Homo sapiens: one gene and its partners. The protein of the gene in region 3 purifies or fractionates together with the protein of the main gene of each other region. This does not show direct contact. Each region holds a gene or a part of one and is shown on either strand. Other genes may lie near its edges.

Evidence for each region.
Region 1: the proteins of LRRCC1 (region 3) and ATP1A4 purify together in Homo sapiens (affinity purification with mass spectrometry; 2 studies listed by BioGRID and IntAct, with this or other methods). This does not show direct contact.
Region 2: the proteins of LRRCC1 (region 3) and POTEE purify together in Homo sapiens (affinity purification with mass spectrometry; 2 studies listed by BioGRID and IntAct, with this or other methods). This does not show direct contact.
Region 4: the proteins of LRRCC1 (region 3) and MIB1 purify together in Homo sapiens (affinity purification with mass spectrometry; 2 studies listed by BioGRID and IntAct, with this or other methods). This does not show direct contact.

What each region holds. Positions count from the first base shown.
Region 1 is NC_000001.11:160,154,588-160,161,615, reverse strand, and holds part of ATP1A4 (sodium/potassium-transporting ATPase subunit alpha-4), read right to left. Parts: intron 6,572-7,028; coding exon 6,368-6,571; intron 5,572-6,367; coding exon 5,458-5,571; intron 2,615-5,457; coding exon 2,480-2,614; intron 2,208-2,479; coding exon 2,090-2,207; intron 1-2,089. UniProt on the Homo sapiens protein: This is the catalytic component of the active enzyme, which catalyzes the hydrolysis of ATP coupled with the exchange of sodium and potassium ions across the plasma membrane.
Region 2 is NC_000002.12:131,212,520-131,219,547, forward strand, and holds part of POTEE (POTE ankyrin domain family member E), read left to right. Parts: intron 1-5,069; 5' UTR 5,070-5,164; exon of another isoform or gene 5,165-5,790; 5' UTR 5,791-5,883; coding exon 5,884-6,404; intron 6,405-7,028.
Region 3 is NC_000008.11:85,124,230-85,131,257, forward strand, and holds part of LRRCC1 (leucine-rich repeat and coiled-coil domain-containing protein 1), read left to right. Parts: intron 1-562; coding exon 563-710; intron 711-2,459; coding exon 2,460-2,608; intron 2,609-4,945; coding exon 4,946-5,150; intron 5,151-5,689; coding exon 5,690-5,829; intron 5,830-7,028. UniProt on the Homo sapiens protein: Required for the organization of the mitotic spindle. Maintains the structural integrity of centrosomes during mitosis.
Region 4 is NC_000018.10:21,743,789-21,750,816, reverse strand, and holds part of MIB1 (E3 ubiquitin-protein ligase MIB1), read right to left. Parts: intron 1-7,028. UniProt on the Homo sapiens protein: E3 ubiquitin-protein ligase that mediates ubiquitination of Delta receptors, which act as ligands of Notch proteins.

The DNA of each region.
Region 1 (7,028 bases), on a different chromosome or scaffold from region 3:
TATGGTGTCACCTACATATATCTTGTGTCATGGTTTAGTCTAGTTCTTCTATTTTATTCCTTCTGCTATGGTTTCCTCACACTTGGAGAAACGGGATTTAATAATTAATCTCAGTGTGTCTAGAGATGGGGTTGGGTTGATGTCAACCTCAGGGAAGGCTGAGAAGGCCAAGCATCCAGCACCCCAGGCCAGACTGGCTTCTTCATACACCTTCCATGTATTGCCAGAGAAATAGCTTGGGCTCCCTTGAAGATGCATGAGAACCCAAAGAGAAGTCTGTGCCACAGCCATGTCAAGGTCTACGGTGATGAGACATGGGAGGCAAGGGTAAAGGTTAAAGTTATGCTACTAATTTGCAAATTGGTCTAAGGCAAAGGTTAAAAGTCTAGGGTAAAGGTTAAAGGGCAAATTGATCTAGGGTAAATGCTATCGGTCTGTGAATTGCTGAGAAATTCCTCAACTGAAAGTCCTTCCGCCCAGCTCCTTCTACCTAGCTCCACCTTCTTGGCCACATGTTGGGTTTTTTTAGCCTCCTACAAAACCATTTTCTATCTAAACAGACCCTTGCTTCCCAGTCGAAATGCCACCATCCACTTTCCTCCATACCCTTTATCTGAACATATACTTAGCTGATGAAAACCCTACTTTGTAAGGGTAAATTTGGGCAAATTTTTTCCTAAAATCTAATAGTAGACATCTAGTGTTTTTGGGGAAAGCTTGCTAACTTGCTTCTGTCCAATCAATTTTAAAACATTTTTAATATATGTATTTTATTTTCTAGTTGGATTCTTTCTCATAGTCTATTCTGTCTTAACATTACGCTTCTTCTTTAAGGTATTTTCAAATTAAATAGCAATCTTTCAGCACAGAGCAGGGTCTGTGGAAGGAGCACGAGATATGGAGACAGACCTACATTAGAATCCCTGACCCGCCTCCTTTCTATTGAGTTGTACTCTTGGATATGGTGCTTAATTTCTTTGAACCTTAGTCTGCTACATGTAAAATAGGGATAATATCTGGTATTGTGCGCATGTGGGAATTAGAGATAATATTTATAATATTTAACAAATACTATGCATTCAAATAAAAAATATTTCTAGGCTGGGTATGGTGGCTCACGTCTGTAATCCCAGCACTTTGGGAGGCCGAGGAGGGCAGATCACTTGAGGTCAGTAGTTCGAGACCAGCCTGGCCAACATGGTGAAAACCCATCTCTACTAAAAATACACAAAATAACTGGGCGTGGTGGTGGGCACCTGTAATCCCAGCTACTCGGGAGGCTGAGGCAGGATAATTGCTTGAACTTGGGAGGCAGAGGTTGCAGTGAGCTGAGATCACACCACTGCATTCCAGCCTGAGCAACAGAGAGAGACTCTGTTTCAAAAAAACACAAAACAAACAAAAGAACTATTTTTAGATAACCAAACATTTGTTCTTAAGCATGAATAATAGTTTTCAAGTGTGCTCCATGGAGTCTTCAGGCCTCCTTAAGGGGAAAGGGCAAAGGAGAGATTGACAGAATGATGTTCAGTCCCTTTTTATTACCACTTTGCCAGAACTGTCTCCCAGTTCAAGGATTCCTAGATTCTAGGAGCAAAGCCAAAGTTTAAGTGGTAAAGTCTAAGTGGCACCTCTGGTAATTCAAGTTTCCAATGCCAATATCTTCTCTTGGATAGGGGACTAGTTAGAAGTTAGGGCTTACCTTAAGAGAAGAATGACTTAGCAGGGCTGAACAATTTTCCTCCCCTCTGTGCCATTTTCAGCTTAAACAGCATAGTCCATTCACAAGCTAAAATAATAGCTAATAATTGTAGGTCACTTACAATGTATTAGGTCTTGTGCTGGGCATTTTACATATATTATCTCAATTCACACGAAAATCTACAGAGTAACGACTTTTACTGTCATCACTGTGCGAATGTGGAAATGATGACCTTGACCTTTCACCAGAGGTCATACAGCTCGTGATGGAGAAGCTCGACTTTTTACTGGCTCTTACCTACCTCGCTACCTTTAGAAGACAGTTATTAAAATCTTTATGTTTTGGTGCCTGCTTTTGAATCTATGCTACTTATGGTTCGATATTCACCTTCCACACAGTTGGTGGAAAAGAAGCAGATGTTTCGGGTCTCCAGAGGGTTCTCATGGGTGAAGTCAGGGGAGCGGCTCTGGGGTTCTGACTCCCCAGTCAAGGATGAGTTGTCCACCTGGGATGGGAGAGGGGACGCGTTGTAAGGTGAGCATAGGAAAAAAGGCAGATTTATTTACAAAAATAGTATGTCTTCATCTGGTCACCAACATCATCACTGACAGACTGAGAGAAACAAATTTACACATCTGTTGTCTCTAACATCAAATCTGCACTTGTAACTTCTCAAGATTCTGAGTAATAAGCTTATACTTTCTCTAACGGCCCAGGTGTCTACCCTGCCATGAGATCACGCTTGGGTCCCTCACATAGCTTTCGGCATCCCCTCACCTTACATCCTTGTGCAGAGATAAGCCGGAGGTCAGCAGGGACTCGGTCTCCACCCTTGATTTCCACCAGGTCTCCCAACACCACCTCTTGTACATTAATTTGCATCTTCTCTCCTCCTCGAATTACCAGAGCTTGCTATGAGAGGATAGTGCAGGATCATTTCCAAAACTTTTGGCTTTCCTCATCCCACTCTTAGCCTAAAACCTTCTGTTATTGGTCTCCCTCCTCCTTACTCCCCTTTCTTACTGTCACCCACCACATCATTCTTGAAGGTGTCTTTGGCAGATTGCAAATTCCCATGATGCTGTTTGCAGGGCCCTTTGCAATGTGACTTTGACGCTCTTCCCATTAAGAGGTGGAGTCTATCTCTCTACCCCTAAACCTGGGCTTGACCACGTGACTTGCTTTGGCCCATAGAATGAATGTGATGGAAAGAGGAGTTTAAAAAGTGCTTTCAGGCCGTGACTGGTGGCTCACACCTGTAATCCCAGCACACTGGGAGGCCGAGGTGGGAGGATTGCTTGAACCCAGGAGTTTAAGACCAGACTGGGCAACATAGGGAGACCCTGTCTCTACAAAAATTGAAAAAAAAATTAGCCAGGTGTGGTGGCATGCACCTGTAGTCCCAGCTGTTTGGGAGGCTAAAGTTGGAGGATCGCTTGAGCCCAGAAGGTTAAGGCTGCAGTGAGCCGTGATCACATCACTACGCTTCAGTCTGAGTGACAGAGTGAGACCCTGTCTCAAAAAATTAAAAAAAAAGTGCTTTCATGCTGGGGCTTGCATTCCTGTTTCTGAGAATCCTCTGCCACCCTATGAACAAGCCCAAGCTAACCTCTCTGTAAAAAGAGAGATCACGAAGAAAAAGGCCCCAGCTGTCCCAGTCATCTCAGCTAAGGGCCCAGACATGTGGATGAGGTCATCTAAGACCATCCAGCCCCAGCTGAGGAACAACAGCACAGCCACAGAATTATGAGAAACAGGAGCTTGCTATTTTAAGCCACTAAGTTTTAGGGTAGTTTGTTAGGTAGCAAAAGCTAACCGACCATGCCTAAACTCCTAGTCTCCAAAACTGCCCAAACACTTTGTCCCAAAACTCTTACCCAAGGAAGGAATTAAGTGATACCAAAAAGAGAAGGAAATCCTGGGCTATACTACTGGAACATGATCATATTATAGGGAAAATGTGGAGCCTATTCCTTTGCAAGTTTCCAGTCCCGTGCCTAGGAACCTCTGTTTACCGTCGTATTCTTTCCAGGTACCTTTAAAAAACATTTAACTTGAAAATAATTTTAAACTTTCAGAGAAGTTGCAAGAATAAAAATAGCACCAAGAACACCTATATAACCTTTATCCAGATTCACCTATTAACATTTCACCCCAGTTACTTTGTCATTTGTTTTCATCCTCTCTCTCTCTGTGTATACTCTTTTCCTGAACTACTTGAGGGTAAGTTACCTACATCATGATCTTTTATCTTAAAAACTTCATTGTGCATTTCCCAAGAATTAAGATATTGTCTTAAACAACCACAATGTAGTTATCAATTTCAGTAAGTTTCACATTGATACTTTAATCTACTGTATTAATCTGTCAGTATTCCAGTTTTGCCAATTGACCCAATACATCCTTTAACGCATTATCTTTGGTGGAGCTGGAGGACATTGTCCTAAGCAAACTAACAGGAACAGAAAGTCAAATACCTTATGTTCTCACTTATAACTGGAAGCTAAACACTGAGTACATATGGACACAAAGAAGGGGAAAAACAGACACCAAGGCCTACTTGAGGGTGGAGGGTGGGAGGAGCGTGAGGACAGAAAACCTACCTATCAGGTACTATGCTTATTACCTGGGTGATGAAATAATTCGTACACCAAATCCCTGTGACACACAGTTTACTTATATAACAAACCTGCACATGTATCCCCGAATCTAAAATAAAAGCTCAAAATAAAAAAGTAAAAATAAAGCATTACTTTCTCCTCTGGCACAGAATCAGATCTAGGGTTAGATATTGCATTTAGTTGCCACGTCCCTGTCTTTTTTTTGAGACAGCGTCTCTGTCTGTCACCAGGCTGGAGTGCAATGGCATGCAATCTCTGCCTTCCGTGCTCAAGCAATCCTCCTACCTCAGCCTCCTGAGTAGCTGGCACTACAGGCACGCTCAGCTAATTTTTAAATTTTTTTGTAGAGATAAGGTCTCACTATACTACTCAGGCTCGTCTTGAACTCCTGGACTCAAGTAGTGCTCTTGCCTCGGTCCCCCAAACGGTTGGGATTACAGGTGGGAGCCACCACCCTCGGAATAGTTGTCATGCCTCTTTAGCCTCTTTTTATTATTATTATTATTTTTTGAGACAGGGTCTTGCCCAGGTTGGTCACAGTTCACTGCAGACTTAAATTCCTGGGTTCAAGTAATCCTCCCGTCTCAGCTGCCTGTGTAGCTTGGACTACAGATGTAGACCAGCTATTTTATTTTATTTTATTTTTGTAGAGATAGCATCTCAAACTCCTGGGTGATCCTGTTGCCTCAGCCTCCCAGAGTGCTGGGATTACAGGCGTGAGCCACTATGCCTGGTCTGTTTAATCTGGAACATCCCCACAGCTGTTCTTTGTCTTTGAGGTCATCGATATTTGAAGAATCCAGCCACCCCCCACCGCACCCCGCTCCCACCCCCACCAACACTTGTCTCTTTAAAAAAATAGAATGTTCTTATTTGGGGTTTGTATGGTGTTTCCTCTTTAGATTCAGATTCTGCCTTCTAGATCAGAGCACTTCATAGGTGACGTTATGTCTTTCTCAGGGTTTCACAGCTTTTCCAGGTACTTTTAAGGACTGATACAGTACCTTGACCCCCTCATCACCAACCTCACTCAGCTCACTTATCATAGGATATAATTTTCCACGGGACTTCATCATTGTGTATTTGGCCACATCCTGCTCCTGCTCCCACTAGATCCTCCCACTCCAATCCTACCTGAGGCACCATGTTCTTAAAAGACTCCATGATCTTGGAGCTCTTGGCCTCCTGATAATAGGAGAAGCAGCCAGTGACGATGACCACGACGGACAGTACGATGCTCAGGTAGAGCTGAGGGTGGGGAAAGAAAGCGTTTATCAGTGGGACCTTGTCGTCTTCTTCATCCTCAGAAAATCAGTCTGCAAGGGGCACAGCAGTTTCACCAGGTGTAAGAGACCGTAAGACTGAGTTGAGAGCAGAGGGGTAGAGAAGAATCTGAGGTGGGACCAGTACACTTGGCTTCCTGGGGAAGGAACCCTGAGCCATGGTGAGCCGTCAGCAAAATTCCTGGTCAGAGAAGGCCTGTATCTTTCTCTCCAGGAAGGCTAATCTCTGGATGGAGGGGGTGGATTGTGAGGGAGGCTGGGAGGAAGGAGATGAGGTTAAAATTGTGGAGAAGAGAAAGGGACTGCAAAGTGCTTTGGGGATCAATTGGGAAGGTCATCAAAGAACAGCAAGTTTTTCGGGGACATTGTGCACCTCAGGGAACTGGACCAGAAGCTTTTTAGATTAAAAGGTGAGAGGAACCAAGATGGAACTTAGAAAGTGGAGTATTAGGGATTTTGGTTTATTACATTAATGTACATTTATTACATTATTATGTAATGTACATTTATTACATTAATGTACATTTAATTACATTTTATAATTAATTACATTCATTACAATGTAATTAATCAATTACATTGTAATTAATTACAATCAATTACATTTATAATTAATGTACATTTATTACATTATTACATTAATGTAATAATGTAATTAGGGATTTGGGCCAGAGGACTTCAGGAGTGCTAGGCTGCTGAGCAAAAGAGTGTCTGGGGCTAAGCAGAGATAGGGCTGGCTAGTAGTAGCTGAAGAGACTCACGTTGTCTTTGGTAGGCTCCTCATTGAAATATATCTGGATGCTGTAGGCCACAAAGCAGAGAATGGCCCCAGTCCATAGTAGGAGGGAGAAGCCTCCGAACAGTTGCTTACAGAATTTGACCCATTCTGGAGTGGTGGGGGGTGGGGTAACAGTATTGGGTCCACCTCGAGTCAGGATTTCCTTTGCCCTTTGGTGGCTATGGCCCTGTGCAGAGAAGAAATAGGGTTGGATAGAGAGCTGTGAAAAGAGGAACAGCCATAGCAAAAGGGAACCTGACATTTGGAGCCCCAGAATGGGTCTAGAGACTAAAGACGCTTTCAGAAGGTCAGTCTGGAAGTTCTTCCTGGATAAGGTGAGGTTTCAAAATTTGCATTAGAGGAGGGATGTCATTTAGCATGCTTACATAGGAAGGTTTTTGTTTATGGATTGATTCACAAACCTTTTTGAACTTGAGAACCTATCTCGGGTCCTAGGTGCTGAGGATACCAACATGAATAAGAATGGTCCCTACCCTTAAGGTGCTCCAGTGGGGAGATAAATACATACAGATAATTATAATGTGCAGGGCCAATGTCATGATGAAATATAATACTTAATGTTGATAACATATTAACACCACGCTTTGACTCTCCAACTTAGAGGGAATAAGATCTAGTGTTTG
Region 2 (7,028 bases), on a different chromosome or scaffold from region 3:
TGAACTGTATTGCCTTCATTTTCTCTGCCACCATTTCCTTTGTTTTCTTTCTTTTTTTTTTTGAGATGGAGTTTTGCTCTTGTTGCCCAGGCTGGAGTGCAATGGGGCGATCTCGGCTCACTGCAACCTCCGCTTCCTGGGTTCAAGCAAGTCTCCTGCCTCAGCCTCCCGAGTAACTGGGATTGCAGGCATGTGCCACCATGCCCAGCTAACTTTGTGTTTTTAATAGAGATGGGTTTTCTCTATGTTGGTCAGGCTGGTCTTGAACTCCCGACTTCAAGTGATCCACCTGTCTCAGCTTCCCAAAGTGCTGGGATTGGAGGTGTGAGCCACCACGCCTGGCTCTCTGCCACCATTTTCAAGAGTATTGCCATCTGCCTGAGCAAACCTGGTTCATCACCACCTCTTTGCAAGAGAAAAAGGAAGTCGGGAGAATTGTGTGTAATTTTTTTTTTTTTGAGATGAAGTCTCGCTCTTGTCCCCCAGGCTGTAGTACGATGGCCCGATCTTGGCTCACTGCAACCCCTGCCTCCTGGGTGAAAGCAGTTCTCCTGCCTTGGCCCCCTGAGTAGCTGGGATTATAGGTGCCTGCCACCACGCCCGGCTAATTTTTGTATTTTTAGTAGAGATGGGGTTTCACCATGTTGGCCAGGCTGGCCTAGAACACCTGACCTCAGGTGATCCACCCACCTCGGTCGGCTGTGTGTATTTTAAGGCAAAGATTCACAACCAAAAACAAGGCTTTATTAACTTTTGTATCTAAGAACCTGCAGTGTCGAGCCCTCTTTTATTCCTAGTATTACTACTTTAGGTGTGAACTTTTTATCTTTATTTTACTGATTCCTCTAGAAGTTTATGCATTTTCTTGACTGCTTTAAAGACAATCTATATTGTATCATTTTTCAAGCCCGTAGAAATGTGTAAGGCCTATAATTTGAACACTTGTTATTTTTAAGGTTATGAGCATGTAATATACCATTGATACATGGAAGAATATGTATAAATACCACTAGATAGGTTATATTGAAGAGATAATATCTAAATTTTTGTCCAGAGTTGATGGGGTGCAGTTTTGTAGGTGTGTTTCTCAATACATTGTGTCCATGTTTTAAAGCATATAGAAATTTGAATACTGTTTAACCTCATATAGTCCTTGTTTATAGGTTTAATATTTCTAAAGACTAAAGACGTCACAGCTCCCTTTAAGATTCAGTAATACTAATAAAATTTGAGATATACAGGGTTAGAGTCCAACAAATTCAAAGGAAAATTGTTGAATTATATAGCCGTAGAGCAGGAATGAAACCCAGGTTCTAAGTTCCAAGGGGGCCATGAGCTACCATACAGGTGCATCAGTGACTGGGCATAGAGTTGGCAAAATTATTTAAGAGAGTGAGCTGTGGATCCTAATTATGTGAACATGAATTTTTGAACTGCATGGTGCCTCAGTTTATCCATCATTACAGTGGGGACAGTAGTAAGTTTTTCTTTTTCTGCTCAGTTGTCTGAATTATTACCCCAGTCTCTCTTGTTGCCACTCTTGATGCCCACATGAGAGGATCTAAGGTAATTTCTGACAACCTGGGACTCCTTAAGGAAAAACAGAAGGTTCCACAAACCCCATTTTAGGAGAAACCTCTGTTTTCCTCATGGAACCCCAAGAACTTTAAGCAGACAGGTCCCTCTCAAAAATCTAAGGCTCTCCTCTGTTTTGCCTTGCGTTGTCTGACCTTTTTGGTTTGGATGGGCATCAGAAATTAGTAGGGGAGAGAGATCTAAAGAAAATTGTGGATATGAAGATGTATTTATTATAAGAAATGTTATGAAGGAAAGAAATGTTATATGAGAGAGGATCTTATATGGCAAATTGTTGTCCTAAAGTAGAATGACTAATTACAAAAGAGGGAAATACAGGACAGGTCAGATAAATTTAATCATGTCGTAGATAGTCTGTGGAAGTTGTGTTATGGTTCATAAAGTGGGAAAGAAAAACTGAACAACTGCTAGATCTTTTCTTGTCTAGAAGTGTTGTGTATGTGATGTATATATAATGGCTCGGCTTAAAAGAAAATGAAAGCTCTTAAATATTTTGTAAGAAAAATAGAAGCTCTAATGCCTTTTATTTCATGTGACTTCAGTAATCTTTGGGAAATAAAGATGGTGTTAAAGTCAGTGGTAAAATAAAAATATCTTCAAAATTTATCCATTTGGTCTAATTTAAGTCAGAGGTTAAGTTTTAGAAGTGCTTTAATGTCATAAATTGATGCTTTGACTTTGGAAAATAGTTTTGTTTACCTGGTTTGGAGCCGTTAGATTTCTAGGTAAGGTCTCCGGACAGGTGGAGTTAGCCATGTCTCCTAGCTATGCTGGAAGGAGTCAGATTTTATCTGCAGTTCTGTCTTGTATCCTAGACTCTGCACCTGGTATGCAATTAAAACTTACTGCTGCTGCTAATCTCTGGGTTCCATTTAAAATCCTTCCATCACATGAATACTATCCCCTGTACTAAATTTTTCCACAATTAAATACTTAGAATCATTTTTGCTGACTTGACCCAACCATTAGTGATATATTTTAAAAATGCTTATAATGTGTCACAATATATTTAGCAAATGTAGGGAATGACATTTTTACTTTCTTCAGCATTTACATAGCATTTATGTAGCAATGCTATCTCAAGTATTTTTAATCATTTAAACGTTAGATAATAGATATGTTTTTGATTCCTTTTTTCTATGTAAATAAATATAATTATGAGATATTTAGTAAATAGTATCAATTGCATATGTCACTTACAGAATATACAATGCAATTAGGATTATTTTTATACACTACATCATATTTACTTGTTGGCTTTACAATAACTTAGAAATAGTATTCTGGATTAACTGTGTGACTCATGAGAGAGGGAGTTTGTGCAATTATAGTCTTTACAAATTTTTACTAGATTTTTCAAGACTTACGCTAGAACTTTGAGAACAAGGTAATAAATAAGCATATCTGTTAATATCACCTTTGGTCAACTCTTGGCTAGACCCAATGATAATGTAGGAATTAACATAATTTTTCTACTAAAGGTGTTGGATTTGTTCCGAGAGACCACAGTTCAAAGTCATTGACAAAGAAAGTTTAAAAATTGTTAGATTAAAACCTTTTAGTGTGTTTGAAATTGTTTTGTAGAAAAATATCCTGGTTTGCATTGATAGGTTTTTTTTTAAATAACAACTAGACCAAGAGAAAGGGAGAGTAGTGATAAATGTCCATGTTTTCGAGTTGAAAAGTAACAATCAGTGTATTACAACAGATGGATTTGATGTCAAATTACAAATGCTGAGAACGTTATATGTAACTGACTTGCCAGAGTAATTATACAAGGCAAAGAAAGGAAAGGCATCTAAATAGGAAGGGAAGGGGTGAGATTGTCTGTGTTTTAGACTCCACAAAAAACCCATTACAGCTGATAAACACTATATTCAATAAAGTTGAGAGTTACAAAATTAACATTGGTTTCCATACACCAATGACAAACTGTTATCTGAAAAATAAGGTAATTCCATTTATAATAGCAACAAAACAAATATATAAGTAAATCAAAGAGCAAGGAGTAATTTTAATGAAGGATGTGAACGATTTGTATACTGAAAATTATAGCACATTGATGAAAGAAATTGAAAGTGACAAATAGAAAAAGTCCTATATTTGTCAACTGAAAAAATTAATATTGTCAAAATTTCAATGCTACTCAAAGCATTCTACAGATTAAATGCAACCGCTGTCAAATTCCAATGTCATTCTTCACAGAAATAGAAAAATTAGTCCTAAAATCTGAATGGAACCACAAAAGATGCTGAAAAACCAAAGCAATCTTTAGCAAAAAGAACAAACCTGGAGGCATCAGACTACCTAATCTTTGACAAAGCAAACAAGAAAATGGGAAAGGACACCCTATTCAACATATGCTGCTGGTATAATTGGCAAGCCACATGCAGAAAAATGAAGCCGTTCTTCAAAGGTTAAATACAGAATTACCACATGACTCAGTAAATTCACTCCTATGTATACACCAAAAATAAATTAAAACAAATGCCTTACACATAAAGGTATTTATAGCAACAAAAAGTAGGAAACAACAGAAATGTCCATGAATTTTGGAGTGGATTAATAAAATGTGGTCTGTCCATAAAATAAAATATTACTTGGCAATGAAAAAGAAAAACATATTAATACATGCTCCAAAAAGGATGAACATTGAAAACATGATAAATGAAAGTAGTAAGTCACACGTAACTATATTATTATGATTCCACTTACATGAAATGTCCAGAATAGGCAAATCCTTCCAGAATAGGCAAATTCTTAGGAAGTAGATGGATGATTGCCTAGGGCTGGGAGAGGTTTAAAGGAAGAATGGGGAAAATAGGGAAAGATTGCTAATGGGTGCAAAGTTTCTTTTAAGGAGCATAAAAATGTTCTAAAATCGTGGTGATTGTTTAACTAGTTAATACACTTAAAAAACTGAATTTTATACTTTAAATGAGTGAATTAAATAATATATAAATTGTATCTCAATGAACCTGTGAAAAAAGTTAAAAAATATGTGGTATGCATAAACAAAAAGTTCTTCATTTTATTTCCTAGGGTTTTGGGGAAAAGGTGGTGTTTGATTATATGAGTAAGTTCTTTAGAGGTGATTCAGGAGATTTTGGTGCACCCAACACCTGTGCAGTATACACTGTATACACTGCACCGGGGCAGGAGCTGGCTGCAATCCTGTGGCCCCAAATGCCCCCTTGCTGATGGCCTCGTGTTCTGGGTGCGGAGCAAAGAGGAGCAGGTGTTGAAGGCACCTCAGGCAGGCCCTGGGCTCGGTGGGCGTCTTGTGCTCCGCGATTTTGAGGCCATTTGCAGCCAGCTCCGTCAGCCCGAGCTCCCAGCTGCAGCTGCTGCCATGCACAACAGCACCGCCAGGAGTGTCCTGGGGGCTTTTTTCAAAGGAGGCTGTCAGCATCCTCAAGTTCCAGACGCTTAGCCCCAGTCCTCCTTTAAGAGGCTTTTTTTTTTTTCACCAGAGGCTTCTCAGTGGCTTGAAAGCTCAGCTGACTCCCACGAAGTTTGCCGGAACTCAAGGCTGTCAGTGACATTCGTGGCGCCAAGACTTAAGCAGGCGCGTTGCATGCATCGGCCAGTGTCTGTGCCACGTGCCCTGACGCCACCTGAGATAAGCACGCCGCACGCCGCACGCCGCACGCGCACGCCGCACGCGCACGCGCACGCCCGGCAGCAGCTTGCTGGCTTGTAACGGCTTGCACGCGCACGCCGCACGCGCATAACGGTTTGGCCGGCCTGTAACGGCTTGCACGCGCACGCCGCACGCGCGTAACGGCTTGGCTGGCCTGTAATGGCTTGCACGCGCATGCTGCACGCGCTTTAACGGCTTGGCTGGCCTGTAGCGGCTTGGCTTGGCTTTGCGTTCTTGGCTTGGCTTGGCGTTGGTAGCTTGGATTGACGTTTCCTGCTTGGATTGACGTTTTCTCTCTCGTGTTCCTTTGCTGGGCTTGACCTTTTCTCTGCTGGGTTTGGCATTCCCTTGGGTGGGCTGGGTGTTTTCTTGGGGGCGGGGGTTGGCCCTTTCTGGGGTTGGCCCTTTCTGGGGTGGGCGTGGGGTCGCCCAGGGGGGGCGTGGGCTTTCCTCGGGTGGGTGTGGGTTTTCCCTGGGTGGGGTGGGCTGGGCTGGAATCCCCTGCTGGGGTTGGCAGGTTTTGGCTGGGATTGACATTTCTCTTCAAACAGATTGGAAACCCGGAGTTACCTGCTAGTTGGTGAAACTGGTTGGTAGACGCGATCTGTTGGCTACTACTGGCTTCTCCTGGCTGTTAAAAGCAGATGGTGGTTGAGGTTGATTCCATGCCGGCTGCCTCTTCTGTGAAGAAGCCATTTGGTCTCAGGAGCAAGATGGGCAAGTGGTGCTGCCGTTGCTTCCCCTGCTACAGGGAGAGCGGCAAGAGCAACGTGGGCACTTCTGGAGACCACGACGACTCTGCTATGAAGACACTCAGGAGCAAGATGGGCAAGTGGTGCCACCACTGCTTCCCCTGCTGCAGGGGGAGTGGCAAGAGCAACGTGGGCGCTTCTGGAGACCACGACGACTCTGCTATGAAGACACTCAGGAACAAGATGGGGAAGTGGTGCTGCCACTGCTTCCCCTGCTGCAGGGGGAGCGGCAAGAGCAAGGTGGGCGCTTGGGGAGACTACGATGACAGCGCCTTCATGGAGCCCAGGTACCACGTCCGTGGAGAAGATCTGGACAAGCTCCACAGAGCTGCCTGGTGGGGTAAAGTCCCCAGAAAGGATCTCATCGTCATGCTCAGGGACACTGACGTGAACAAGAAGGACAAGCAAAAGAGGTAACCAGGCCTGGGCTGGGAGGAGGTGGGACGTGGGGGGATGATGGGGACATACCCTCCTGGCGGGGGAGGAGGGGGACCTGGCTTTCTCGCCTCCGCAGGCCTCACACCACCCTGGATGTGGAAACCTCAGAGAGGTCAGGGTACAGGGCCCTTTATGAACAGCAACACAAAAACAAAACTTTAGCTGATTTCCAATCATAATTTCCCTCATAGAACACTAATAGACTGTTTTAAAGTGATTTAACTTGCAAAATTAATTAAGTCAATGCAGCAGATTATTTTTAATCTACAGATTTTAAAACAATGTTCTATACATTATAGAAAAGTGTATATTGAGAACTAAGAACAAAGCCCCATAACACATCAACTTCAGGGCTAAATATTCTTCAAATAAAATCCAGTATGGATTTTATATCAATGTACAGTATGTAAATATGTTCTTTACTGAGGAACCTTAGAAGGAAACTGAAATGGGAAGATGGTTCCTGTGCTTGAACAGGAAGATTGAATTTTCTTAAGATGTGAGCTTTTTGGCTGGGCGCGGTGGCTCACGCCTGTAATCCCAGCACTTTGGGAGGCGGGCGGATCACGAGGTCAGGAGATCGAGACCATCCTGGCTAA
Region 3 (7,028 bases):
TCCTTTTGCAAAGCATATTTTGTTGTTTTGTTGTTGATTAATTCTTCCATACCTACCCAATTACATTTTACATGTATATATACCCACACACACAGAGGCATTCAGTTCACTTCAAACACTGTACTTTTTTCCAGGACATACCCTGGAATTTCTTTGGTCCTACCAAGTGATAGAATCTATTAACTTTGATCCATTGTATGTCGATTTTAAACTTTTAACTCTCAAAGAGTAGTTCTATTTACTGTCTTTTCAAGTTCTTGGGTATCATCTTACCACAGTACTTTTTAAATTATTCTGATATATCCAAGAATTCTACCCTACCTGAAAATGTTGAACCCTGAACATTTATGAAATCATTATCTTTTTTAAAATCTTAAGGCACTCATTAATCAACAGAGCACACCCATTATAAAATTTATGAAGCAGTTTGTCCAAGTTACTATAATTTTATTAATATTCTTTTTAAAAAGCTGTTTGCATATACAACTAGAAATGTTAATTTAGAGAAAAGTAATGTGAACACTACTTTTTTGAGTTATTTTCTATGTTTCATTCTTTACAGTTGTAATCGTAAAATGAAACCACCTTACCTTAAAGAATTATATGTAAGCTCATCTTTAGCAAACTGTCCTATGTTACAAGAATCAGAAAAGCCAAAGACTGAAATAATTAAAGTAGACCAAAGTCACTCAGAAGACAACACTTACCAGGTATGATTTAAGAGTTAAAGAAAAAATGAGTATGAATAATTTTAAATACAGAGTCCCAGAAAAATTATGCATGCTTTTATTAGCAAAAAGTGTTTGAATTTTATTGGAGTGATGAAAATGGGTTATTTTTTCCTTCCTGATTTCCAGATTTTATGTAATGTTATTTTTGAACGAATGAAAATTACATTTTTTTATGATCAGATTTAAGTGAAATCATTTGTTACATGCTTCTGGAGGAAGAAACAGTTATGAATTTTTTAATTCTTATTCCTTAAGGTAGTGCTTCCTACTTTTTTTGGGTGTCAGACCCTTTTCAGTATCTAAAAAAATTTACAGGTCTTCTCAAAGAAGCCTATTTTTACACTCAAAAAAATGTATATATTTCAAGGTTTTCATGGACTTTCCTGAAACTCAATTTTGGACCACTGGATCCCAGATTAAGAGGTGTTCAAGGCCGGGCGCGGTGGCTCACGCCTGTAATCCCAGCACTTTGGGAGGCCGAGGCGGGCGGATCACGAGGTCAGGAGATCGAGACCATCCCGGCTAAAATGGTGAAACCCCGTCTCTACTAAAAATACAAAAAATTAGCCGGGCGTAGTGGCGGGCGCCTGTAGTCCCAGCTACTTGGGAGGCTGAGGCAGGAGAATGGCGTGAACCCGGGAGGCGGAGCTTGCAGTGAGCCGAGATCCCGCCACTGCACTCCAGCCTGGGCGACAGAGCGAGACTCCGTCAAAAAAAAAAAAAAAAAAAGAGGTGTTCAAAAATGTTTTAATTCTTTAAAATTTGCTTAACATTTCTCATGTTGAGAAACTTCAGTACTTGTGGTTTCATTATTTTATATTTTTCATTAACTTCCCCTTATATTACTTGTGTATTGTTCTTTCAATAATAGAATTGGTACATTTTAGGCTACTGGTTTCCTCCCCTTATTCTCAACTATAGAGGCTTTAATATTGAAAAATAATAATTATCATTATGACTTTGGACACACTTCATCTTTCTTCTTACTTAACCTATTGTGCCTGTGTTTCCCAAGTTACATATTCATTTTTCTCATGAAAAATCAATCTTTTCTGATTCAACCCCCGCCCCAAGTTTGTTCGAGATTAGATCCTTACCAATCTTTATATTCCCTTGCGTGCCTTGGTAAGGACTCTGTTTCCTTAATACAGAGTCTGGCATGTGGGTGCCATGCTATGAGTATATACTATTTCAAAAAAGGAATCTTATCTACTATGGCATAATAATAGCAGCTAACATTTATTGATTGGTTATTATGTAGCAGGCACTGTTCTGCACTTACCTACATGCTTTGCTACCAGTAACATAATTTTTGGCCCGGCGCAGTGGCTCACACCTGTAATCCCAACACTTTGGGAGGCCGAGGTGGGTGGATCACTTGAGGTCAGGAGTTCGAGACCAGCCTGGCCAACGTGGTGAAACCCCATCTCTACTAAAAATACAAAAAAACAGCCAAGCTTGGTGGCACATGCCTGTAGTCCCATCTACTCGGAAAGCTGAGGCAGAAGAATTGCTGGAATCCAGGAGGTGGAGTTTGCAGTGAGCTGAGATCATGCCACTCCACTCCAGCCTGGGTGGCAGAGTGAGACTCAAAAAAATAAAATAAAAAGTTTCACTGTAGCTCTTTGAAGTAGGTACTATTATTCCCCTGTTATAAATGGGAAAATTGAGGCTGTGAGAAGTTAGGTAACTTTTCTAAGTTCACATAACTTTGTTGTTTTCTTTCAGTCCCTTGTTGAACAGCTAGACCAAGAGAGAGAGAAGAGATGGAGAGCTGAGCAAGCCGAAAATAAACTCATGGATTATATTGATGAGCTGCATAAACATGCAAATGAAAAAGAGGATATTCATAGTCTGGCTCTACTTACCACAGATAGGTAAAAAGAAATTAATAAACCTGAAGATACCTCATAGCATAAACAATACTGACTTTAGAACTGGAATACATTAGTTTCAGTGTGGTTCAATCAACAACAATGTATGTGGTTTTAGTTTGATTTGAACTAATTTTATTAGACAATTTAGCACTTTATTAGCTTGTTATATCAACAAGAAATTCAGGTACATGTATTTGAGCCCTCAAGCAGGAAGGTGTCAGATAAATATTATAAGTAAAGAACAGCAAGAGACTAGAGCAGTGATTAACAAACTTTATGTAAAGTGCCAGATTCTGTAAAGGGCAGGCATTGGCAGCCTTTTTCTTTAAGCTTCATGGGTCATATTTGATCTCATCACATACTTATCTTCTGCAATGGGCTTTTGTATCATATAGCCCAGTTTCTTAATTCTGATGTTTTTATTCTATCCTCACCATTACGTCTCCCATTTTATCTGGGTTTTTTGTTTTGTTTTGTTTTGTTGTATTGCATTCTTTAATACAGGTCTGTCATTTCATTCTGTGAAAATACCAGTTTTTTAAATTACAATAACTTTTTTTCTTCTGTTTCCTGTAATTATTTCTAACGTCATGCTTTTCCTCAAATGATTATAACATGTTTAGAGTTTCTTATGGTTTCTTACCCTTGAATGAGCACTAGGTTTTTAGACTTGACATTTGCTAACACACTTTGGGAAGTTGCTCTTGGTTCCATTTCTTGTCTGATTGTGCAGTGGATAATTCCCCTTCTAAAATCTGATTTGGATAAGTTGATGTACACAGTTCACAGCCCAGTTCCCGATTTCTTTTAGGCACTTTTGTGATACTGACGTGGTGTTTTCTACCCCACTGCATGTTTCTCTGATAGGTTGTACCTGTGGAGTATAAGGACAATTCTAATACGCAACATGCATGCTATGAGAACCTCTATAATTATAAAGCTGTGATGCGTTATGTTATCACTAGCCCTTCTACCACTACCCACCAACTTCCTGCCTTATTTGTGTTTTATAAATGTCTGTCTGAATTGACACAAGAAGCTACTGGGTATGGATGAGGGAACAGGATGTCTCAATTAAGAGTGCTCTGACTACCTCAGAAAAACAGCACTCCTGCTTTCAGTAAGTGCATGAGTAACCAACATTATGTAGTGACAGATTTATAGAGATCTTGTGACTGAGTCATGGACAGATAGTAGAAGAGAAAAGATATGTCTTCCTTTTTTCAGAATGGAGCAGTTTCATGAGGCAAAGCCTGAGTGTTGTAGGAGTTGTTTTTAATTTCAATTTAGTTCCATTTGCCTTGTAATTGAAATTATTCCCAAATTTTGGCATTCTCTTATCCTTTGTTTTCAGTTATATGTGTATGAATTTTTACTTTATTCTGTATTCTAGGTATTTAGTGGGATATTAGAGGACGCTGTGTCTAGGGCTGCTAGCCAAAGTCCATTTAAACTGGAAGACTTTGGGCACACTTTATCTTTCTTCTTACTTAACCTATTGTTGTGCCCGTGTTTCCCAAGTTATGTATTCATTTTTCTCATGAAAAATCAATCTTTTCTGATTCTTCTTTTATCTGTGCCACCCCCCCACCCCCCCCACCACCACATGTTTGTTTGAGATTAGATCCTTACCAATCTCCCTGTTCCCTTATGTGCCTTGGTAGGGACTCTGTATCCCTAATGCAGGGTCTGGCATGTGGGTGCCATGCTGTGAGTATATACAATTTCAAAAAATGAATCTTACCTACTATGGTATCTTTATTATCCAAACCTCCTTGATGACCAGATCTGTTCATCTAATTATCTACTAAAAATGCCTTGCCTGTATTCCTCATAAGTTTCTTAAGATCACCATGGCCTCAGGTGGATTCATTCTTCTTCCTTATTTTATATTTCTTGCCCTAATAAATGGTGCCCCATCCAGCATCCAGTCAGTCACCAAAACTATAGAAATCTAGGAATCTTTGTTTTTTGCTTCCTTTCTCTTTCTCCTATCCCACAACCAGTTGATATTACCATCTTTATTGATACTTTTATTCATCAATTGATATTGATATCATCTTAAAAGATGTTGAACTATCTCCTCTGTATCCCAAAACTGTTACCTTTCTTTAGGCCCTTAACTGTTGCTTAGATGATTGTTCCATTTCTGTTTCTCTGTGGCTTTCCCTGCCCCTACCCATATACAGTCTAGCACGCTTTCATATAGCATATCAAACAGGAGTTGAGAGCATGAACAAAGGAAGACCAGTTCAGAGAGTACTCTCATTGAAGTCAACAATTTTATCATTTTTATATGTGTAATATACTTAACACCACATATAACTTCTGCTTTAGGCTAAAGGAAATTATTTTTAGAGAGAGAAATTCCAAAGGACAACTCGAAGTTATGGTTCACAAACTTCAAAATGAAATTAAAAAACTGACTGTTGAACTAATGAAAGCAAAAGATCAACAAGAGGATCACCTTAAACACTTAAGAACCCTCGAAAAAACATTAGAAAAAATGGAGAGACAAAAAAGGCAGCAGCAGGCAGCACAGGTATTTCTCTATTTTAATATATGAGTAGCACAGATTAACACAAATTCATAGCTTCTATCGTGAAACAAATTATACTACCTAGAAAACCTAAAAGATGTAAGGCCATATGCAAAAATTAAATTGCTGTTAATTTAACGGTCACATAGCCTGTTGAATTATGTCTAAATTAAGACTACTAGCTCTTAACACAAAGCAATTAAAAAGAAAAGTTGATGGAAATGTTGCAGGTGGTTAGGCTTTTATTCTGAGAGAGCTGGCTTTTTAAAAGGCTTTCAGGTGATTGAAGGAATTTCATTTTCATGCTTTCTGAATGGAAATTATCATTAAAATCTGTGATGCAAATAAGCAATAGTTAATGCTAGTGTATTTGTTCCTTCCAAGGCTGCACTTTGTGTGACTGTAACATCATTAATTTATTAAAGTTTGAAAATCAACTTAGTCACCGGACACTGTCATTTAAAAGGTACTTATGGAAACTGACATTAAAATAGCAGGGGAGACTATTATCTAAATAATGTAATTGTGGGTATTTTACTCAGATAAGACTGATCCAAGAGGTGGAACTCAAAGCTTCAGCTGCCGATAGAGAAATATACTTACTTAGAACTTCCCTTCATCGAGAAAGAGAACAAGCGCAACAACTTCATCAACTTCTTGCATTGAAAGAACAGGAACACAGGTAAATGAAAAATGTATCAGGAATGTATTGGCATTTAAAAAAAGAAAAAGAAAGCTACTGGTTCCCCACTACCAGTATTTTTTTTTTTTTTTTTTGAGACGGAGTCTTGCTCTGTCGTCCAGGCTGGAGTGCAATGGCGCAATCTCGGCTCACTGCAAGCTCTGCCTCCCGAGTTCACGCCATTCTCCTGCCTCAGCCTCCCGAGTAGCTGGGACTACAGGCGCCCGCCACCATGCTGGCTAATTTTTTTTTTTTTTGTATTTTTAGTAGAGATGGGGTTTCACCATGTTAACCAGGATGGTCTCGATCTCCTGACCTCATGATCTGCCCCACTCGGCCTCCCAAAGTGCTGAGATTACAGGCATGAGCCACCGCGCCTGGCCCCCACCACCAGTATTTAAAGATAGTGATTGAGCATTGGTGAAGTCTGACAGAATTAGTTAGTGGAAAATGCCGTGTTCATGTATGTATACATTAGAATCAGCCCTATAGCAAGAACTAGTAGCTAAAAAATGAATAGTTGCCTTTGTTATCAGCATTTGAGGTATAGGTTTATAACAATATAGCTTATTGTTCATTTCTTCAAACCCAGCCAAAAGTTGGTCTTTATATAGAGAGAAAATTTTTAATTGACCCCCAAGTTAATTAATTAGTAAATTAATCAGTATTCTTTATTCCTCTGAAGGAGGGGTCAGTGAACTTTTTCTGTAAAGGGTCACATAGAAAATATTTCAGGCTCTGCAGGCCATACCTAACTTTGCCTTTGTAGCACAAAAGTAGCCATAGATAATACATAAATGAACGGCATGGCTGTGTTCCAATAAAAGTGTATTTACAAAGAAAAAGGCAGTAGGTCACATTTGGCTGATGGGCTGTAGTTTCTCAACTCTTGCTCTACAGAATCTGTAATAATTTCAACATTTTCAGTTTATCTATTTCAGTTATCTATTTACTATCCTACCAGTGAAATTGTATGATTATCATATGTTAATTGTATTTATTCCGAAACCTGTTTTGTTTTGTGTCTACATAAATTTTGGTGCTCTGGGGAAAATTGTTATCTTGTATAGATGAGACAATTATAAAAGATTGGGGGAAAATAATCACAAAAATCTAGAATTTTGTACTTTGTTTCCTTTACAGGAATTTTGTACTTAGTTTCCTTTACTTAGTTTCATTCCAGTTTAAAGAAACCAAAA
Region 4 (7,028 bases), on a different chromosome or scaffold from region 3:
AATTTACATAAAACCAACACAATGAAAAAGGTAAGAGGTGTGGGGCAGGAGATGGCCGGGCGCAGTGGCTCACGCCTGTAATCGCAGGACTTTGGGAGGCTGAGGCGGGTGGATCACCTGAGGTCAGGAGTTCCAGACCAGTCTGGCCAACATGGTGAAACCCCATCTCTACTAAAAATACAAAAAATTAGGCCGAGCGTGGTGGCTTACGCCTGTAATCCCAGCACTTTGGGAGGCCGAGGCGGGCGGATCACAAGATCAGGAGATGGAGACCATCATGGCTAACACGGTGAAACCCCGTCTCTACTAAAAATATGAAAAGTTAGCGGGGCATGGTGGCATGCGCCTGTAATCCCAGCTACTCAGGAGGCTGAGGCAGCAGAATGGCATGAACCCGAGAGGCGGAGCTTGCAGTGAACTGAGATCTTGCCACTGCACTCTAGCCTGGACGACAGAGCGAGACTCCGTCTCAAAAAAAATAAAAATAAAATACAAAAATTAGCTGGACATGGTGGCACCCGCCTGTAATCCCAGCTACTCAGGAGGCTGAGGTAGGAGAATCGCTTGCACCCAGTAGGAGAATTGCTTGCACCCAGGAGGTAGAGGTTGCAGTGAGCTGAGATCATGCCATTGCACTCCAGCCTGGGCAACAGAGTGAGACTCCACCTCAAAAAAATAAAGAAAGAAGTATGGGCAGGAGTAATTAAAGAGACTGTTTAGTTTTTCTACATGCAAAAAAAACCTAATTTTTCAATCTGTTTGTTAAATATTAAAAGGTAATAATTAGCAGAGCAGAAAAAAAGGTGATAAAATTTCTAACTCACTGGTTAAAAAAAAAAATACAAGAAAACTGGAAAGTTAAAAAGTAAGGTAGCAGCCAGGTGTGATGGCTCATGCCTGTAATCCCAGCACTTTGGAAAGCTGAGGTGGGTGGATCACCTGAGGTCGGGAGTTCGAGACCAGCCTGACCAACATGGGGAAACACGGTCTCTACTGAAAATACAAAAAATTAGCCGGGAATGGTGGGGCATGCCTGTAATCTCAGCTACTTGGGAGGCTGAGGCAGGAGAACCACTTGAACCTGGGAGGCAGAGGTTTTGATGAGCCAAGATCGCGCCATTGTACTCCAGCCTGGGCAATAAAAGGAAAACTCCATTTCAAAAAAAAAAAAAAAAGAGTAAGGTAGCAGTAATTAGAAAAAATGTATCAGTTGTCACAATACATATGAACAAGTTAAATTCCTCTATTAAAAGACAAATGTTCTCAAAGTCAGTGAGGACAATATTTAGCCATGTCATTTATAACAGAAATTCCTGTAACAAATTAATTTAAAAGCTAAAAATTAGTACACAAAGGTATGTATACACAAAGATACTTGTTGCAGTGTTGTTTAAAATGACAAAAAAGAAAACACTATAAATGTCTATCAAAAGAATAGTTAAGTAATATATTTTTTAACTATTAAATACTATGTACCGACCAAAAAGAATAAGACAGATTCTTATGTGCTAACACTGCAAGATGTCCAAGACAATATTCATTTAAAAAGAAAGCTGAAGAACAGTACATATGGCATACCTATATGGAAATACATATATATTTCTCTCTAAGTAGTTAAGACATAAATGTCACCTTATTTTACCATATAGGAAGTACATATTAGATTATTTATAAGGAATACAGAAAACACACGTCAAGTGGAAAAAAAAGAATGAAACAAACTATGTATACAGTAAAACCTTAGCTGTGCAAAAAAGACACACTAGAAAGAAACAAGCAGGGCTCAGTGGCTCATGCCTGTAATCCAGGCAATCTGGGATGCTGAGGTTGAAGGATCACTTGAGGCCAAGAGTTTGAGACCAGCCTGGGTGATACAGCAAGACCTCAACTCTAAGAAAAATAAAAAATAAAAAAAAATTAGCCAGGCTTGGTGGTGTGCACCTATAGTCCTAGCTACTCGGGAGGCTGAGGTAGGCGGATCACCTGAGCCCAAGAATTCGAGGTTGCAATGAGCTATAATCACACCACTGCTCTCCAGCCTGGGCAACAGAGTGAAACTCTTTAAAAAAAAAAAAAAAAAAAAAAAGGCTGGGCATGATGGCTCACAGCTGTAATCCCAGCACTTTGGGAGGCCAAGGCAGATGGATCACTTGACCTCACAAGTTCAAGACCAACCTGGGCAACACGGCAGGACCCTATCTCTACAAAAAAATACACAAATTAGCTGTGCATGGTGGTGCGCACCTGTAGTCCCAGCTACTCAAAAGGCTGAGGTGGGAAGATGGCTTGAGCCCAGGAGGCAGAGGTTGCAGTGAGCCAAGACTGCACCACTGCACTCTGGCCTGGGGGACAAGAGTGAAACTCCAGAAAGAAAGAAGAGAAAGGGAGAAGGGGGGAAAGAGGGAGAGAGGGAGAGAGGGAGGGGGGAGAGAGGGAGGGGGGAGAGAGGGAGGGAGGGAGGGAGAGAGGAAGAAAAGCAAAGCAAAGCAAAAAAAGAATGGTTTTGAAAAGAGCACTGAACAATTTACAACAGGATGTATCACAAAGTTTCATTTCTAAATTGGTTTACATTTCATTATCAATTTTCCCACAAGCAAAGTGTTACAGGTGGTCATGTTTCTGAACCACTATACTATAAAAGAAAAAGAGAATGATACTGAGGAAAAGCAATCAACTGGCATTCATCCCTACTATCTGCCACTCACCAGCTTTGTGACTGGACAAATTTCTTAATCTCTCTGAATCTGAGTTTCCTTTTATCTTGTTTTAGGATAATATCTATCTAATCTCTGATCCAATGAGTCAAAAGCTCTTTGAAAAGTGTGTCTGATTCAGAAAATACTCATCCAGAGACATGGTTCTGCTAGAAAATGGAGATACAAGAATAACACAGACCCTTTCCCTTAAACTAATAATCTAGTGCAAAAGACAATTACAACACAGCATACCCTGCTTTAACAGATGAAAGCACACATGTGGGGATATCACACTAGCTAGCAATTATAGAGGGTGGAGGAGAGACCCTGGTGGGTGGCTACCTGGGAACACATTCAAAAAGAAATAGCTAATCTAATCAGAGGGACAGGCTGGAAAGTATAGGATCGAAAATACACATTAAGATAGCATTACACTTACAAAAAGTACATATATTAGAAAGGTGTTACATGCTCCTTTATTTCAGTTGTACACACTTCTCTTCTCCCCAACTAATAATGCCAATCTAGTTTTAAAGACATGTATTACCAACAAACAATCAAGGCTTGGAATCTGTTGAAAGGAAAAGGAGAAAACAGAAACGCAGGGCATCTCAAGTAGACAAATAGTCACTTAGTACTCTGCTATTCAAAGTGTGTCCTTGAGCCTGCAGTATCTGCATCACCTATGAGCTTATTAGAAATACTCTCGCAGAATCCCAAACTTACTGAACCAGAATCTGCATTTTAAAAGGTCCCCAGGTGATCTGTGTGCTTTAAGTTTGAGAAGTACTGACACAGGGGTCTACTAGTTGATTTCTTGAAGTCCTCAGCTCAACCAAGCTGCAATCTACAGGGACTATTAAGAACTAGATAGACTTTCATAATTTACAACATTGTTTTAGTGGAGGAAATAAAATAAGAAAGACATTTTACAGAAGCCTTTAAAATAGGTAGGATCTATGAGGAAATAAAGTTTTCCTTGCAGATGTCATTAATAAAAAACATTTTGTGATATTTCATCCTTTCCAGGTGTGGCATCCTGCTCCCCAAACATTGTTCCCTCAAATCCTGTTTTTTCCTACGGCTTTGTGTCCTGACAAATACCCCTTTCTACTGTGGTTCTAGAAACAGATCAGAATAGGGGACTCTATTCTGATAAAGAAAAGCTGAGGATTATTAATTCATTTCATTTTTTTAATCCAGGGTCAGCCCTTTTAAACCTTCAACTGAATACAAAACATCTGAGAAGTTTTTCCACGTATGACTGGAGAGGCATTCTTTGCTAGCGGTCAAAGACAAGGACAAAGAACTACCCCCAAAACAGTTTGAATGAACTATGACCAGAAGCTGGTTTTGAATAAAGCTGATTTTCTATACCTCTAACTCTGTATTATCGACACGAAGAATGACAGAACCTTAACAGGAAATCTACATTCATTTTCTCCATTATCTCTGGTAACAATACAACACTGTAGTCAAGTGAACACAAAGCAAGCATAAATAAAAACACATTTTTCTCCAACTCCTATAAAATCAGTGCCTAGATGATAAAAAGTCAACTATACCTACTTGACTACAGACTTTACAAAATTAGTCCAAACTAATTAAATAACATCCCATATAGTCCCAAAATCTTCTTGCTCACTACAAATGAGCCAAATGAATCTCGAAACAAGACAGACGTTATATCACTCAAACAGATACTAAATGCTCCTCTCTGCAAAGTTTAACTATCCTAGACCATAAATTCAAACATATCATGTGTGTCCTGAAAGAAAAAATAAAGCTGATATGCCAAAATATTAGAGACCCGCATACAACTCCCAGACAAAATCTTCAAAATGTAGTGAGAAAAATCGTATCAGAAAGATTCACAATGATCCAACCACTCCAGAATCCTTAACTCCCAGAAAAGTTGCAAGGAATCTTATGCTGAAGGTTACCCATTTCTTAATTCCCAATCATACTGCAATAAATTTTCTATTCATATAATATAGGTGGAACTAGGGAACAAATGATGAATAATCAAAGGCAACCTCAGTTCTCCCTCTGATAAATATAAGGCTTTTTTTTAAATTAAGTACAAAAATATGACACACACAAAAATATAGAAAGGGCTGGGTGTGGTGGCTCACACTTGTAATCCCAGCACTTTGGGAGGCTGAGGCTATGGATCACTTGAGGTCAGGTGTTCGAGACCAGCCTGGCCAACATGGTGAAACCCCGTCTCTACCAAAAATACAAAAGTTAGTCAGGTGTGGTGGTGCATGCCTGTAATTCCAGCTACTCAGGAGGATGAGACAGGAGAATTGCTTGAACCTGGGGGACGGAGGTTGCAGTGAGCCGAGGTCACACCACTGCATTCCAGCCTGGACCACAGAGGGAGACTGTCTCAAAAAAAATAAAATTTTGTGTGTGTGTGTGTGTGTGTGTGTGTGTGTGTGTTTAACACCTATGCACTCACCATGGGGTAGGTTTAATCACAGAACATTACCAAAATACTTAAATGCCCCTGGTGTACTTCCACCAATCGTGCTCTCCACTCCCTTCACCATAAGGATGTCCCACTCTCTTAAATTTAGTGTTTATCTTACCTTTACGTGGCATACTTTTACCACGCATGTACATATCCCTAAACCAATGAGTCTCAATTGGGAGCAATTTTGCCCCCACTAGGGGACATCTGGCAATGTCTGGAGATATTGTGGGTTGCCACAAGGAGGTGGGGTGCTACTGCTGCTAATGGGTAGAGGCCAGGGATGCCTGCCTACAATGCACAGGACATTCCTATAACAAAAAATTATCCTATCCAATTCAAAATGTCAATAGTGCCAAGGCTGCAAAACCCTACCCTAAAATAGTTTTGTTCCGCACTTTAACAGACCGTAGGTTTTCTTTTGCAACTTACTTTATTTGCTTAACATTCTCTTCTATACAGTACTGCACTATACAAATTCATACAACTTATCCAGTCTCCTGCTAAGGTACATTTAAGTTTTTTCCAATTTTCTGTTTTTACATGCAACACTGCTGTGAACATTCTTTTTTAAATTTTATTTATCTCAAAACCATAGTAACTGCTGTGAACATTCTTATACAAGCTTCTATGTGCTCAAATAGAGATTCTCTCCAGGGCAGTGACTTTTAAAGTGTTATTCTTCAACCTCTAGGGAAATCCTCAAGACCCTTTGAGGGACTTCATGAAGTCAAAAGTATTTTCACAATAATATGTAAGATACAAGTTATCTTTTTCATACTGGCATCACATTGCTGGTACAAAAGCAACAGTTGGTAAAATTCCTGGTGACCTAGCCGAGTTAACGCTATAATTAATGAGACATACGAACACCATGTACCTCCTGGTACGATGCACTAACAAGGGCAAAACATCATTTCTATGATATTCTTGCCGAAAATACATAATCTGAATTTAATCATGAAAAAGCAGCAGAAACACCCAATTTGAGAGATAACAAGATTGTTTTTCATTACTTTGACACTGACTAAAGACTGAGGAACTCACCCAGATTGGAAGAGACCACTAAATGCAACGTGTGATCTTGGATGAGAAAAAGAATACTAGTAGGACACTAATAATAACCACTGCATATAATTTGAATAAATAAAATTTGAATAAGGTGTATAGATTAGTTAATACAGTATTACCGTATTAGTGTTAATTTTCTGGTTTTGATCATTGTACTTGCTAAGATATTAACAGCTGAAGAAGGTGGGTAAAGGGCAAAAGGCAACTCTTACTAGTTTTGTAATTTTTCTGGAAGACTACAATTGTTTCAAAAACAAAAGTTAATTTTTAAAATGTTAATATTATGCAAATAAATATCAAGTACTTAATAAATATTGAGTAATCTTATAGAATGTAATAAAATGTCAGTGAACACTGATTATTAAATATTTTGAAGAAAAAGGAAAACACTGAAAGTAGTATTATAGTCCTGGGGCAAAACAAGAGCCAGGAGCTTACAATTTTGCTCAGTTCTAAAAAAAAAAAAAAAAAAAAAACCCTGAAGAATTTAAAAGGTTGAAATTAAAATATATTTCAACAAGTATTTCATATGAAGGTTGGCTATCCTGCTCTTAAAATGTTTGTTAAAAGACCAAATGAACAAGATAAACCACTACATATAACAAATTAATGTATAAAATTATCTTATTAAACTAAGATTCTAAAACAGTTACTTCTGAAAAACATCTACGTTTATATTAAGATAATAAAACTATTAATATGATAGATACACCCCATACTACAAACATATAGATAACATTAATGTCCCTTCAAAAATCACCGTAGTAAAGAATCTGTTACACTTT